Homo sapiens: one gene and its partners. The protein of the gene in region 4 purifies or fractionates together with the protein of the main gene of each other region. This does not show direct contact. Each region holds a gene or a part of one and is shown on either strand. Other genes may lie near its edges.

Region 1 (3,500 bases), on a different chromosome or scaffold from region 4:
GAGGGAGGGGACCCAAGGCTCAGGATTCCCCGACCCAGAGCCCCTTTAAGGCAGATAATTTGTGCTTTACAAAGACATTGATGAAAACACAAACAAACCCTCAATGACCAAACAAATGAGAGAGAGAGAGATCACAGTGTGTCAAGAAGGGCAGCAAGATCGGGAGGGAGGTATGGGGTGGGAAGGCTGGGGAGTCCAGGCGGGGTCCTCAGGGCAGGCTAGCAATGTCTCTCTCTGGAGGGGGGCCAACTGGCTTGGGGCTGCTCTCGTTGGCTTTTCCTTCAAACATCATGACTCTGGTTTGGAGATGGAGAAAAGAAAAAAAGAAAGAAAAACAAGATTAGGATCCTTCCCTCATCCAGGGAAAGATCATCCCAGCCTCATGTCAGCAGGGTCCTCAACAGAATTTAAATCTGTTCTCCAGTGGGATCCTTGCAGAAGCCCAAGACAGCAGCTCCAAGGAAGGGGCTGCTAGTCCCATTTTACAGAGGAGAAAATGGAGGCGCAAAGTGGTGATATGACTCCTCAGAACCACACAGGCGGTCCAGGGCAGAGGCTGGGTACGACTCCAGGCTTCTGACTTCCAGGCCATACCCTTCCCTTAACCACACTGCCTGGAGGAGGCTGAGCCAGGCTGGGCCACGCCTCTGCGCAAAGATCTTCAAAAACCTGCCCACTGCTCTGAGAGTGGTGTCTGGGGAGTAGAGGGTAGGGGCTCAGCGTATAACCTCTAGGGCAACTGCCTAGATTCAAATGCCAGCCCTGCTACTTCCCAGCCGGGTGGCTCAAGCAAGACACTTGACCTCTCTGATCCTTGGCGTTTCTCCCTGGAAGTGGGGTGCTAGAAGATCTGGCCAGATTGGACCGTGGGCTCATGGGCCAGGTACTCAGTCTCCTTGGGCCTCAACAAGCTCCTTTGTAAAATGAGACAGGTATATTTTACATTCGTACTTTAAAAAAGTGAATCTTATTTCATAAAAGCCAAGTAAGTGTTATTTTCTGTTTTCTTTTTTTTTTTTTTTTTCTTTTGAGACAGAGTTTTGTTCTTGCCGCCCAGGCTGGAGGGCAATGTCACGATCTCTGCTCACTGCAACCTCCGCCTCCTGGGCTCAAGTGATTCTCCTGCCTCAGCCTCCCGAGTAGCCAGGATTACAGGCGTGAGCCACAACACCCAGCTAATTTTTGTATTTTTAGTAGAAACGGGGTTTCACCATGTTGACCAGGCTAGTCTCGAACTCCTGACCTCAGGTGATCCACCGGCCTCAGCCTCCCGAAGCGCTGGGATTAAAGGCGTGAGCCAGGGCACCTGGCAGAGTGTTATTTTCAGCTGTGACAAATGACAATGAGACTGCCCTGGGGCAATGCTGTAACGCTCTTCAATGGGGCAGCACCCACAATGTGCTACCACGTAGTAGGTGTTTGCCATCAGCCACACAAGGCTGAAATCTTCATAAGTGTCATTTCACTAGCCCTCAGGACATCACGGAAGACATGATTATCACCCCTATTTTATAGATGAAGAAACTGAGACTCGCAGACCTAAGGTAACTTGCCCAGGGTCATTTTGGTAGCAAGTAATAGCATCAAGATGCAAACCCTGCCTCCCTTTGGGGCCAATTTTTGACTCTATTTTATGCTTACAAGCCTGTGGGGGTAGTGGAGGTGCTTTACAAATGGGGAAACTGCCAGGCATGGTGGCTCACGCCTGTAATCCTAGCACTTTGGGAGGCCGAGGGGGTCTGATCTCTTGGAAGTCAGGAGTTTGAGACCAACCTGGCCAACATGGCGAAACCCCATTTCTACTAAAAATACAAAAATTAGTTGGGTGTGGTGGCGCACACCTGTAATCCTGGCTACTCGGGAGGCTGAGGCAGGAGAATCACTTGAGCTCAGGAGGCGGAGGTTGCAGTGAGCTGAGATCATGTCACTGCACTCCAGCCTGGGTGACAGAGCGAGATCTCAAAAAGAAAAAAAAAAAAAAGGAAAACTAAGGCTCGGAAAGTTTCAACAGATTTATCACCATTATCACCATCACCACCATCATCATCATCACAGTTGCCACTTACTGAGTACTGATTCTGCCTGACTCTGCTACAAGCTAATTTCCCCTACAGGGTACATATTAATATGACCATTTGGGCCGGGTGTGGTGGCTCACGCCTATAATCCTAACATTTTGGGAGGCTGAGGAGGGCAGATTACCTGAGGTCAGGAGTTTGAGACTAGCCTGGCCAACATGGCAAAACCCCGTCTCTTCTAAAAATACAAAAATTAGCCAAGCATAGTGGTGCATGCCTGTAATCTCAGCTACTAGGGAGGCTGAGGCAGAAGAATCACTTGAACCCAGGAGGCGGAGGTTGCAGTGAGCCAAGATCACACCACTGCACTCCAGCCTGGGCAATAGAGTAAGACTCCATCTCAAAAGAAAAAAAAACAAACAAACAATTGACAGATAAGGAAATCAGGATCAGGAGAAGTAAGTACCTTGTCCAGCAGGTCGCACAATGAGTTACCTACTAGGTGGGGAATGGCTGGGGTGCCCAGAGCCAGGGGCCTCTCTGCACAGAATGATTTTGCCTTCAGAGATCCCAAGGGAGGAAGGAGGTACTCACAACTTGAGGACAGCCGACCGTTTCCCCAGCATCATGTTCACAAAGTCTCGGTAGGATATAGTGTCACTGACCCCTCCTGTCACCTCTGAGATCATCTTCTTCATCTCCAGGTGGGTCTTGGGGACACCAAGCTTCTCCATCATCCTCTTTAAAGACATCAGGTCTGCCGGGGGAAAAGCAGATCTGTTAAGTGGAGATGGGCTGCTGGGGCTTAGCAGGGAAGCTGGGAAAGCTCCACTCAGGCACCCCACGCCTAGAAACTTGGCGTCTGCACTCCTTCTCTAGGGAGGAGGAGCCCATCACGCCCTCCCTGCTCTCTTTGGAGGCCGTATAGGCTAGTGGTTAGTGACCTGGGCTTCTAGAGTCAGACGGGCTTGCATTGGAATCGAGCTCTGCTATTCCTGGCTCTGGGATCTGGGGCACACTACTTAACCTCTCTGAACCCCTGCTCCCACCAACGGTGGAACGGGTGGATGGGATCATTCAGGGATCTCTGTGCAGGAAGCACCGGCCCAGAGCACTTTCTTCACACCATGACTGTGGGCTCTGCTATTTCCTGCAGTTAGGGTGGGCTGGGTGCCCACTCTCCTGCTGCCTGGGGAGTTATGCCCAGTGTGGCAGGGTCAGGAAGTCAGGCATTGAAAGTAACTCTGCTGGGTGCCGAGTGGCAGGTGGCTTCTCCCCACGTGCCACTCCTGTCCTGCTGTCCTAGGGCTCTGCCCCGGCTGGAAGGGAGAGGATGCCAAAAATATCCCACAGAGCAGGAAAACCAACAAAAGAACAAAATTCAAGAAAAACAAGGGAGGCCCCAGAATGTCACTCCAGCCCGAGGCGGTGCTGTCTCTGACCGCCCAGCTCCCACCAAGATCTGAGGCAATTTCCTTTGGA
Region 2 (3,394 bases), on a different chromosome or scaffold from region 4:
CCATCTCTACTAAAAATACAAAAATTAGCCAGGTGTGGTGGCACTCACCTGTAGTCCCAGCTACTCAGGAGGCTGAGGCAGGAGAATCACTTGAACCTGGGAGGCAGAGGTTGCAGTGAGCCGAGATCATGCCACTGCACTCCAGCCTGGGAACCAGAGCAAGATTCCATCTCAAAAAATAAATAAATAAATAAATAAATAAATAAAAATAAAAGTAGTATCCTACTTTGCTTTAATTTGAAAATTTTAAATTATGACTGTGTGGTGCATTTTTTTATATGCTCATTGTCCAATTATTTTTCTTCCGTGAATTGCTTCTTCAGGATTTTTCTTCCTTTGCCCATTGAATTGCTGATCTTTTTCTTGATTTGCAGGAGTTCTTTTTAACTTAAGGAAGTTAGTTCCATGTCTGTCATTTCTGTTGCAAAAATGTTTCCCAGTGTATTTTTTTGTCTTTAGCATTTTAGTTTTTTTTTTTCTGTACTGCGTTTTTAAAGTTGTGTTGTTTTTATTAACCTTTCGACCTTTTTCTTTAGGTTTCATGTCTTGCTTAGAAAGATCTTCCTTACTTTAAGATGACAGCTGTCCAAAAAATTAACTCATGGTTTCTTCCTCTACTTTTATGGTTTCATCTTTCACATGTAAATCTTTGATCTGTATCAAATGTATTTTGGTGTAAGGAGTGGAGAAGGAATCCAATATAACTTGTTAAATTTTTTTCTAGATGGCTACTATTTCATCCAACATCATAGTTACAGTCCATCTTTTTCTGACTGACCTGGAACGCTACTTTTATCATAGATTGAATTCCCATGAGGCTGGGTTTTTTGTTGAATGATTTAAAGTCTATCCAAAGGGAGAGGCTCATAAATGAGTGTTTTGAGAGTTCGACTCATGAGTGAAGAGCACTCTATCCCTGGGAAAATGTCCAAGGGAGTGAAACTGGAACTTTCCCCCTTGCCTCCAGTTGGGCGTCCTTCTGTGCTCATCTGCCTTCTTGTTATTGGTATTACAGATATCTGAGAAATATGGGCTGCCCGTGGAGAAGATAGCAAAGCTTTACAAGAAAAGCAAAAAAGGGTAAGAAAGAAACTGAACTTAAATTGACTTTCAAATCAGATAAATCCACATGATGCCTTAAAAATAAAATGATGCCTGTCTTTTGTTAGGTCTGTTGCCCACTTTTCATAAAAATTGTGTCCTTCTTCCAGAGAATTGCAGAGGAGATTGCATTTGGAAGATCTTTAGGAGAGAGGGAGGGAGGGAGGCAGTGCACTGGCACTATGTCAACTGAGATGCCTATTTCAATGACAAGACAAGCAGGAAGACCACAGAGGTCTGGAGGTGCTGTGGACACTGGGGAGAATGGCAAAATCACCTTTCTGCAGGGAGTGGAGTTTATAGGGAATCACGTATGGCCCTTGGGGTTGGTTTCTGGGTGGCATACTAGGAACAAAAAATGGTTTGGAACATAGGGGATTCCTCTAAGGTAATTATCAAGAAAATGTTCTCAAATGATCATTGGACCTGTGTGTTCTCATTGTTAAGAACAACAGGTCATATTTACTGGGTGTTCAGTAGGTTTGGGGTCCCTTCCTAAGTACTTTACATGTATTCCTCTATTTAGTTCTCACCACTTTATGAGGTGGAATCTCTTATCGCTGATTTATTGATGAAGAAAGCAAGCCAGAGGGGGCTTAAGCATGTCGCCCAAGTCTCATGTTCAGTAGGTAGAGGACAGATTTGAACCCATCTGTGTCCTCAAAGCTCAAGTGCTTAGCTTCCACGTTCTGCCGTCTGACTTTCTGTGTGGGCTTCCTATGTGTGACGGTCTAAGAGTAGGGGCCACAGGAGCTAGTGGAAGTGCCAGGAGAGGGTATCTGTTGACTCAGCTTCTGGGGTATTTTCCTACAAAAGGCAGAAGATGAGTCAACTCTTCTCCGGATCACTTTCATAAAGGAAATTGGATTATCTGGGAAGCTCAGGCTTTCTGAGTGATGAGTCCTGTTGGTTGATTGGAGGATCTGACAGGAAACCCTTTCCACCTGAGCTCTTGTTGGAAGATTCACTAAAATGCACGTTATACTTCTTGCCGAGGTCAATGTAGTAGGCTGGGTGTATTACTGACAGTGAGATTTCAGTCGTGTCTCACAGTCTTATTGCCGAGCAGAAATCCTCAGTGCAGAGGTACATGCTGATGATAACATTTTGCTTTCATCAAGCTCTGTATCAGGTGTTGTGCTAAATGTTTTTATCATAAAAACAATCCGTTAAAGCTAAGTGACTGTTCTTATTTTTACAGGAGGATAAACTGAGGCTCTGAAAGGCTAAACAGCTTGCCTGCTGACACATAACTGTAAAATGATAGAGTCAGTCAGTGGTTCATTCTCAAACCAGCATCTGTCTGACTTCAAATCATGAAATTGGCTTAAGGAAATTATGGAAGTCTCTGGAAGCTGTTGGCTTTCTTAAAACTCTATCAGGGATAGTTAGCCACAGGAGTAGGTCACAGGTGGTAAAGTACAAGTGTCAGAATGAGGTAAAGCTAATTTCAAAATCAAGCTCAGCCATGTGCTAACTGAATGAACTTGGGGAAACAATTTAACCTTGTTGAGGTCAGTTTTCTCATTTGCAAAATGGCAATGACACCTACCTTCACAGTTGCTGTGAGAACTAAACACAAGGTCATATTACATGCTCAAAAAAGGGTAGCTGCAATTCTTGCTTGTTTTCCTCTTCCTCCTAAGAGCAGAGGCAATGCATTTTTAAAAATGCATTTTCAAGGGCAACATGGTTTACTGAAAAGAGTTAGAGAGAGAGCCTAATGATTTAGGTTCTGGCCCTGGTAATCAGTAACTGTGATTCTGGGCTTCCTAACTTCCCTGGGCCTCAGTTTACTCATCTATAATGCAAGCGGTTTGGGTTGAATGTTAGTTCTGAGAAATTGAGGCTTTGCTTTCCTCAAACTAGTTTTTGGGCAAAGAAAACAGAATGAGGGTCTTTCCCTGCCTTGTGTCCTCTCTCCTCCACTCCTCCCAGCCTCCACCACAAAAGAATGGCTACGAGAACCCCCAGCCTGGAGCTCCCCTTGCCCTGGGCACATTGTTCACGGCGTCTTTGTTTTTCACACCCCTCCCCCCTCCATGGCAGCATCTTGGTGAACATGGATGACAACATCATCGAGCACTACTCGAACGAGGACACCTTCATCCTCAACATGGAGAGCATGGTGGAGGGCTTCAAGGTCACGCTCATGGAAATCTAGCCCTGGGTTTGGCATCCGCTTTGGCTGGAGCTCTCAGTGCGTTCCTCCCTGAGAGAGACAGAAGCCCCAGCCCCAGAACCTGGAGACCCATCTCCCCCATCTCACAACTGCTGTTACAAGACCGTGCTG
Region 3 (3,500 bases), on a different chromosome or scaffold from region 4:
GCTCACCTGCAGCAGCTCCAGGTCTGCGGGCTCGGCCTGGGTGGGCACCAGCTCCGTCAGCATCTCCGACATCACCCTCACGTTCCCACTCACCATCTCCAGCTCACTGCGCAGCTTCCCAATCTGAAACACACAGTTGATCGTGGTGAGAGAAGCCAGGGTTCTGGGGCCCATGTTACTCACAGCGACAGAACCCAGTACCACCAACCCTGGGTGCAGCACCAGGGAGCCGACCTCCCAGCAGCCTCTCTAGGCAGCCTCCCTCCTGGCTCCCAAAGTGACAGCTCTGCACTAGAGGCCTGCCCCACCCCTTCTACAGACCCCTCACAGAGGCGCTACCAACCGTTACCATCTCCACACCGGAATGAGCCACCACGTGTGGCTGGAAGACTCCAGCATCTCCTGGGTCTAACACAGCAGCTAACAAGGCCCTGGAGGGTGGCTCCCCACAAGGCGGGGAGGGACGCTGCAGGCCCTCTCTCTCTCTCCCACTAGAGGACTGGGATTCTGCCCTCTCTCTCTCCTCCTAGAGGACTGGGATTCCGCCCTCTCTCCTAGAAGACTGGGATCCCCCCCTCTCTCTCCTCCTAGAGGACTGGGATCCCACCCTCTCTCCTCCTAGAGGACTGGGATCCCGCCGTCTCTCTCCTCCTAGAGGACTGGGATCCCGCCCTCTCTCCTCCTAGAGGACTGGGATTCCGTCCTCTCTCTCTCCTCCTAGAGGACTGGGATTCCACCCTCTCTCTCCTCCTAGTGGACTGGGCTTCTGCCCTCTTTCTCCTCCTAGTGGACTGGGATTTTGTCCTGTTTCTGGTCTATTTTGGTGTCCCAGGCTCATCTAAGGATAGTCCTTGCCCTGTACCCCACCTTGAATATGAAACTCAGATTTAGCACTTGTTCCAAGGGATGTGGGCAGGTTTTCAATGGTCAAAGGGTTCCAAGGAGTTGGGCTTGGGGAAACATTTTCAATAAAGCTGCAGTCTCCTCAAAGAGGTTAGCTTGTGAAAGGCCATTGGTATAAGGATCTTATGCTGTGGGACCTTGTAGGGTGTTTAATGCCCTCATGCACACTGGGAATGCCTGGGAAAAGATCAGTCTGAAAGCTTCTAAGATTTATTTGACTGAAGAACCTTTTTATGTTTTGAGAAATGCTGGTACATTCTAAATCATGTGGCTGAGTTATAGTTGATTTCAGAGTGTCACTATATACATTCATGATTGTGACAGCAGCTACCATTTATAGACTACCTAATAAGTGCCAAGCATTGAACATATATTGCTAACTTAATTTTTTACCATGGTAGACATCAATATCCCTGCTTTTATAGATGAAGAAATGGAGTGTAGAGACTAGTAGTATATCCACTATGGTTCACTGACACCTTCCAAAACCTGCAAAATGTTTGATCTATTTGGCTTACTTAATGAACACTCTTGGTATGAGTGAGTGGAAAAACTACTGATCACAAACCCCATGTATCCAAATCAGATGGGACTTAATTACAGAGGAGTCTGGGAGTAACATCACTGCACACCTGATGTCTTAACATGTCCCAAGAGACAAAAGGGGACTCTCGAATTAAACAAAGATTAGTTTTGTTTAGCAAGCACCTTCTTGCATTGGAAGTAATTAGCGTCTTAATCCACACAGATGCTAGACTTCAGAAAATTGGTTAAAATCATAACTGAGTTAGACAATCACAAGGTGGTTTTACAATTTTTTACACACCTTTAACCCACTCAGAAAAAAAAAGTGCAGCTCGCTGTCAGCACTCATTTAATTTTACATAAACATGCTCTTTGAGGCTGAAGTAAACCTGACTGATTTTCAACATGAAAATAAAACATAAAAACTGTTCTTGGAGTTATTTCTAAACAGAACTTGTCTCCAATCCTAACGTAACAGAAATGTATATGAGGTTACATTAGGATTAGAGACAAGAGTATTCTTGGGGCAAACGGGCAGTGCGTTAATAATTTTGTCCAGTTAGCAAAATTTTCTAGTAATATCTGTAACTCTGAGGGGTGATTTCATAACTTGCTATGAGAAAACAAATCATGGAAGTTTCTCTTCAAATAGGTTAGGGTGAGAATGAGTTCAAATGATACAAAAAGTGGGCAGTGGGGACGCTTATTGGGAAAGTTAAGCTTCACTTTTCTTTCCATCACACATCCGTGTCTAACTCACCAGCACACTCAGCAGCTCCACCTTTACGCTCCGCGGATGTGATGGGCCTGATGTGTGTACAACACCTTTAACGTGGGTGTCTCCACAGTGTGCAGGCCTCTGCCCCCACCCCAGCAGCCAAAAGTCTAGAATGACAAGCCCCCAGCTCTACGAGCTGGTCATGGCTGTAGAAGTCACTCAGCAGATACAGCAGCCATGGCACTCCACAAGCAGCTCATGGCCCAGTGGGCCATGAGGAGGAAGGAAGTGACATGCCCAGGGTGCCACCTGCTCTGAGGTGGGTAATCCTTCAAAGCTAGTCAGAGGGCTGGGAAAACCTGTCCCCTAGAATCTCATACTAAGCCTCAAACCTTCTTGGCTGGGTGTGGTGGCTCATGCCTGTAATCCCAGCACTTTAGGAGGCCAAGACGAGTAGATCACTTGAGCTCAGGAGTTCGAGACTAGCCTGGCCAACATGATGAAACTCCATCTCTACTAAAAATACAAAAAATTAGCTGGGCATGGTGGCTCATGCCTGTAGTCCCAGCTACTCAGGAGGCTGAGGCAGGAGAATTGCTTGAACCTGGGAGAGAGAGGTTGCAGTGAGCCTAGATGGTGCCACTGCACTCCAGCCTGGGTGACAGAGCAAGACTGTTTCAGAACAAACAAAAAAGCTTCAGACCTTCTTGAGACTTCATGGGAAGCAGCATGGTACAATGTACATATGTTTTTTATTTTTTGCACAGATGTTTGAAAACTTTTCAGGCAGAACCTCTCTTCAAATGAAGCCTTTTTTTTTTTTTTTTTTTTTTTTGAAACAGGTCTCTCTATGTTGCCCAGCCTGGTCTCAAACTCCTGGGCTCAAGCCATCCTCCTGCCTGAACCTTTGAGAAGCTAAGATCACAGACGCACGTGACCATGCCCAGCTCAAATGAAAGCTGTGAGTGTGTAAGAAACCACACAGGTGGAGCTGGCCTGAAGGGGCTGCGTACAGGACACCTCTCCATGGTGCTGTTGGAGGGCCCCGCAGAAAACACAGGTTGGAAAATGGCCAAGGTACAGGGCAGTGCCTGCCAGGAGTCAGACAGACGTGAGCTTGGATCCCAACTGTCTCTGATGACTGTGTGCTCTGGGCAAGTGAATGGACCTCTCTGAGTCTCATCGCTCAAACAGGAAGAACCACACATACCCTGTGGGCTGCTGTGAGGAAGAAGTGGAGGCTCCGTGGATGGTAAATTCTGACAGGGGGCCCTCCCTGACGTGTGTGGCCCACCTGCCTGGACCTGACGGTTCTGACCCCAGGCTCGTTTACCTGTTCCGGGGTTGGTGCTAT
Region 4 (3,500 bases):
AACAAATCTTAAAGATGCTAAACAGCTTCTAATTCAGCAGAAATTAGAACTTCAAGGAAAAGCGGACTCCCTGAAGGCAGCTGTTGAACAGGAGAAGAGAAATCAGCAGATACTAAAAGACCAGGTGAAAAAGGAAGAAGAGGAGCTGAAGAAAGAATTTATTGAGAAAGAAGCTAAGTTGGTCAGTGAGTTAATCGGGGGAAGTGTGTTTTGCAGTAGAGCTTTAAATCAATCCAGTGAGAGGACTGTTCTACTTATAAGATCTGATTGAAATGCTTTCCTAACATTTTAGTTTTTGATTAAGGAAGGAGATCTGATTTATTTACATAGCTGACATGTGGTTGGAAATATTTTACCCTGTAACCATAATTCTGTTTTTATAAGTGAACATTGAAATGAAATAAAATTAAAAAATTTTTTTTGTTTTTTAAGTGTCAGAAGCTAAACAACCCCACAACTACGTAGATCTGGTAAATGGTGTGAATGCTAGTCATGTTAAACCCATTTGTTGGGTCAAAACGAATGTTGATAAGGGGGAGCGGAAACTTGAGTTTGAAATTATGATGAACAAAGTCTGCTTTTCCTTTCCTAAGTTGCACATGCCAAATGGGAAGCATCTGGCTTTCCTCTGTTGAATTAAGTCCAAATATGCCCAGATAACTTGGCCATTGAATATTTTAGTTGAAGAGTTTCAATTTTAACTTCAAACAGTCATTTGAAGGTTTCATAATGGTTTTTGGCAGACTGATAGAGAAAAGAAAGCATATGGAATTGGGACGAATAAGGAAATTTCAGCTTTGTCTCTAGGGCACCTTGCTATCCCTAACCATATGTGTCTTTCCTGCTCTGGTGGAGAAGAAGAAAGATCTCACATTGTGTCACTTTAGCTCACCATCATGATGGTCACTATCCATCATTTCAGCATTTTGACCTTTGAGCCAATTCATATTACATAGATGCTTGTGGAATCAGTTTTATTAATGTGTAATGAAATATGTTCTCCTGCCTCCATTCCCGAAGAAGCAAATTGCCAGTATTTTAAATGTAATAAATCACTTACATTTATTTTGCACTACTTTTGTAATAGATTTCCCCCCAACTTTTCCTTTTTTTCAGCATTCCGAAATAAAAGAAAAGGAAGTAGGAATGAAGAAGCATGAAGAAAATGAGGCTAAACTTACCATGCAGATTACAGCATTAAATGAAAACTTAGGCACTGTGAAGAAGGAGTGGCAATCTAGTCAACGGAGAGTTAGTGAGCTTGAGAAACAAACGGATGACTTACGGGGTGAAATTGCAGTATTAGAAGCAACGGTTCAGAATAATCAAGATGAAAGGAGAGCACTACTGGAAAGGTGATTGATATCTAGTAAAATTAGTTTATTTCCATTGTAAGTGATAAAAAGATTGTCATATTCCATAGTTTTTAAAAATAGAAGAATCTTGAGAAAAGTGCATAAGCCTCTATAGGTATTTAAGTAGCCATTTAAAAATTAACCTGTAAAACAATCAGATAGTCAAAATTAATGTATCATATATTTTAAATTACTAAAGTAGTCCATTATCTATACCCTAGAAGGGTCTTTAAATGATTTTCTAAAAAATTAATTACCTCTTTGCAATCTATTCCAGATGTCTTAAAGGAGAAGGTGAAATAGAAAAGCTTCAAACCAAAGTATTAGAATTGCAAAGAAAGCTGGATAATACAACTGCAGCAGTGCAGGAGCTGGGCAGAGAAAACCAATCACTTCAGGTCAGTCACCTATGGATATGAAGCAGTTTTTTAGTCTAGAATTGGCTTATTAGTGAAAAGCATATTTTTACCTTTTAAAAAATCTCATGTTTTATAAATACTTTCAAATAGCTACTCTCTGTTTAGCAGTATTGTAGGTTTTGTGGATAATTAAATATAAAAGTAAAGAACTTGTTTCAGAGACCTCAGAGATTCATTAGAAAGCCATGTCATTCATTAATTGTTAGTATATGGAAAGAACTACAAAATTCAAGAATACCAAAGAATATATGAGTCAGTATGTGTTAAAGAAGCGATCTGAGTATATTCTCAGAGTCACCAGGGAAAATTCATCATTATGTTTAGAATGGATTGGAAATCAGCAAAGGTTAGCAAGATATTTCAGGAATAAAATTCAATTAATTTTATTTTGTCATTCAGATTTATGAGTATAGCTACTTTTGACAATAGAAGCTGACCAGTGTATTTCTGATTTTTAAAATTTTATTTCATGGGTCATATAGTCAAAATTTTATAGAACTCTGGCAGCAAGTTAGAAATAATCTAGCATTCTTTAAAATGTTGAATACTATAATATATCGATACTTCTTTAAAAAACAGATCAAACATACACAAGCGTTGAATAGAAAGTGGGCCGAAGACAATGAAGTACAAAACTGTATGGCCTGTGGGAAAGGCTTTTCAGTAACAGTGAGACGGGTAAATAATTTTGTTCATGTAACTATGTTTCTGGATTTCATTTGTCACTGATAATTAATGTTTTAACCATCAAAATAGTCCTTCATTTGACAGAATAATTTTCTGTTTATCAGTAAACTTTAACAACAACATAGAATAACTTCATGCAGTCTAGCTTTTGGTTAGCATATGTGTTTGAATTTTACTTTTAAATTCAGTCCTTGTCTTCCAACTTAGTTACTGTCTGGGACAATCATTTTCTGAATCAGTGCACCAATATTAAACTCATGTTTTAGTAATCATTGGGTTCTTTAAAGGAAGAAAAAGCAGAGGTATTTTAAAAATATATTCTAAATACTACCATTGTGTTAATGACTTAAGTTTATATTTCTTTTGGAGACATTAGTGCCTGAAACATTTGGCAAATAGGAATAGTTTTTCATTTGATAGAGATACTTTATAAAAACTTTTTAAATGCCTCCTCTGGTTCTTTTGAGAGTTCCATAATAAATTCTATGTAAAATGTTTAGCATAGTGTTTGATAAATAGGAAGCATTCAATTTAATTATAACAGAGATTAAGTTAACATATTGAAACATATCATTAAATAATATACCAATGACTTGAAAGCTAATGTACCTTCATAATGTAGTTGGTGGTATTCATGTAGTTTCATAATACTTTTGGTATAGTTTTTATTCTTGAAATTGTTTAATTTTTGTCATTTACAGCATCACTGCCGACAGTGTGGAAATATCTTCTGTGCTGAATGTTCAGCCAAAAATGCCTTAACTCCTTCCTCCAAGAAGCCTGTTCGTGTCTGTGATGCATGTTTCAATGACTTGCAAGGATAATGGGTTATCACAACTTCAGAGTAATATTACACTAACATTAGATTTTTAATAAATGTACTTAATAGAGGTCTTGGACTACTATTTGGTTTGGACACTGGTTGCAATACTAGACCAAATAGGAATTAGTATATTTTGGAATGTTATGGATATCAAGTAAAACTCTTCTATTTTTGTGAGACTTGGGCTTATCATCTTTCATTACTTTTTTCCCATTT

What was found.
Region 1: the proteins of EEA1 (region 4) and AIF1L purify together in Homo sapiens (affinity purification with mass spectrometry; one large-scale study listed by BioGRID and IntAct). This does not show direct contact.
Region 2: the proteins of EEA1 (region 4) and GRHL2 fractionate together in Homo sapiens (co-fractionation; one large-scale study listed by BioGRID). This does not show direct contact.
Region 3: the proteins of EEA1 (region 4) and TOM1 fractionate together in Homo sapiens (co-fractionation; one study listed by IntAct). This does not show direct contact.

The regions. Positions count from the first base shown.
Region 1 is NC_000009.12:131,117,031-131,120,530, reverse strand, and holds part of AIF1L (allograft inflammatory factor 1-like), read right to left. Parts: intron 2,776-3,500; coding exon 2,613-2,775; intron 297-2,612; coding exon 209-296; 3' UTR 1-208. UniProt on the Homo sapiens protein: Actin-binding protein that promotes actin bundling. May neither bind calcium nor depend on calcium for function.
Region 2 is NC_000008.11:101,663,439-101,666,832, forward strand, and holds part of GRHL2 (grainyhead-like protein 2 homolog), read left to right. Parts: intron 1-1,015; coding exon 1,016-1,080; intron 1,081-3,150; coding exon 3,151-3,265; 3' UTR 3,266-3,394. UniProt on the Homo sapiens protein: Transcription factor playing an important role in primary neurulation and in epithelial development. Binds directly to the consensus DNA sequence 5'-AACCGGTT-3' acting as an activator and repressor on distinct target genes.
Region 3 is NC_000022.11:35,323,894-35,327,393, reverse strand, and holds part of TOM1 (target of Myb1 membrane trafficking protein), read right to left. Parts: coding exon 3,480-3,500; intron 124-3,479; coding exon 7-123; intron 1-6.
Region 4 is NC_000012.12:92,775,796-92,779,295, reverse strand, and holds part of EEA1 (early endosome antigen 1), read left to right. Parts: coding exon 1-181; intron 182-1,116; coding exon 1,117-1,355; intron 1,356-1,359; exon of another isoform or gene 1,360-1,498; intron 1,499-1,612; exon of another isoform or gene 1,613-1,632; coding exon 1,633-1,753; intron 1,754-2,353; coding exon 2,354-2,452; intron 2,453-3,162; coding exon 3,163-3,285; 3' UTR 3,286-3,500. UniProt on the Homo sapiens protein: Binds phospholipid vesicles containing phosphatidylinositol 3-phosphate and participates in endosomal trafficking.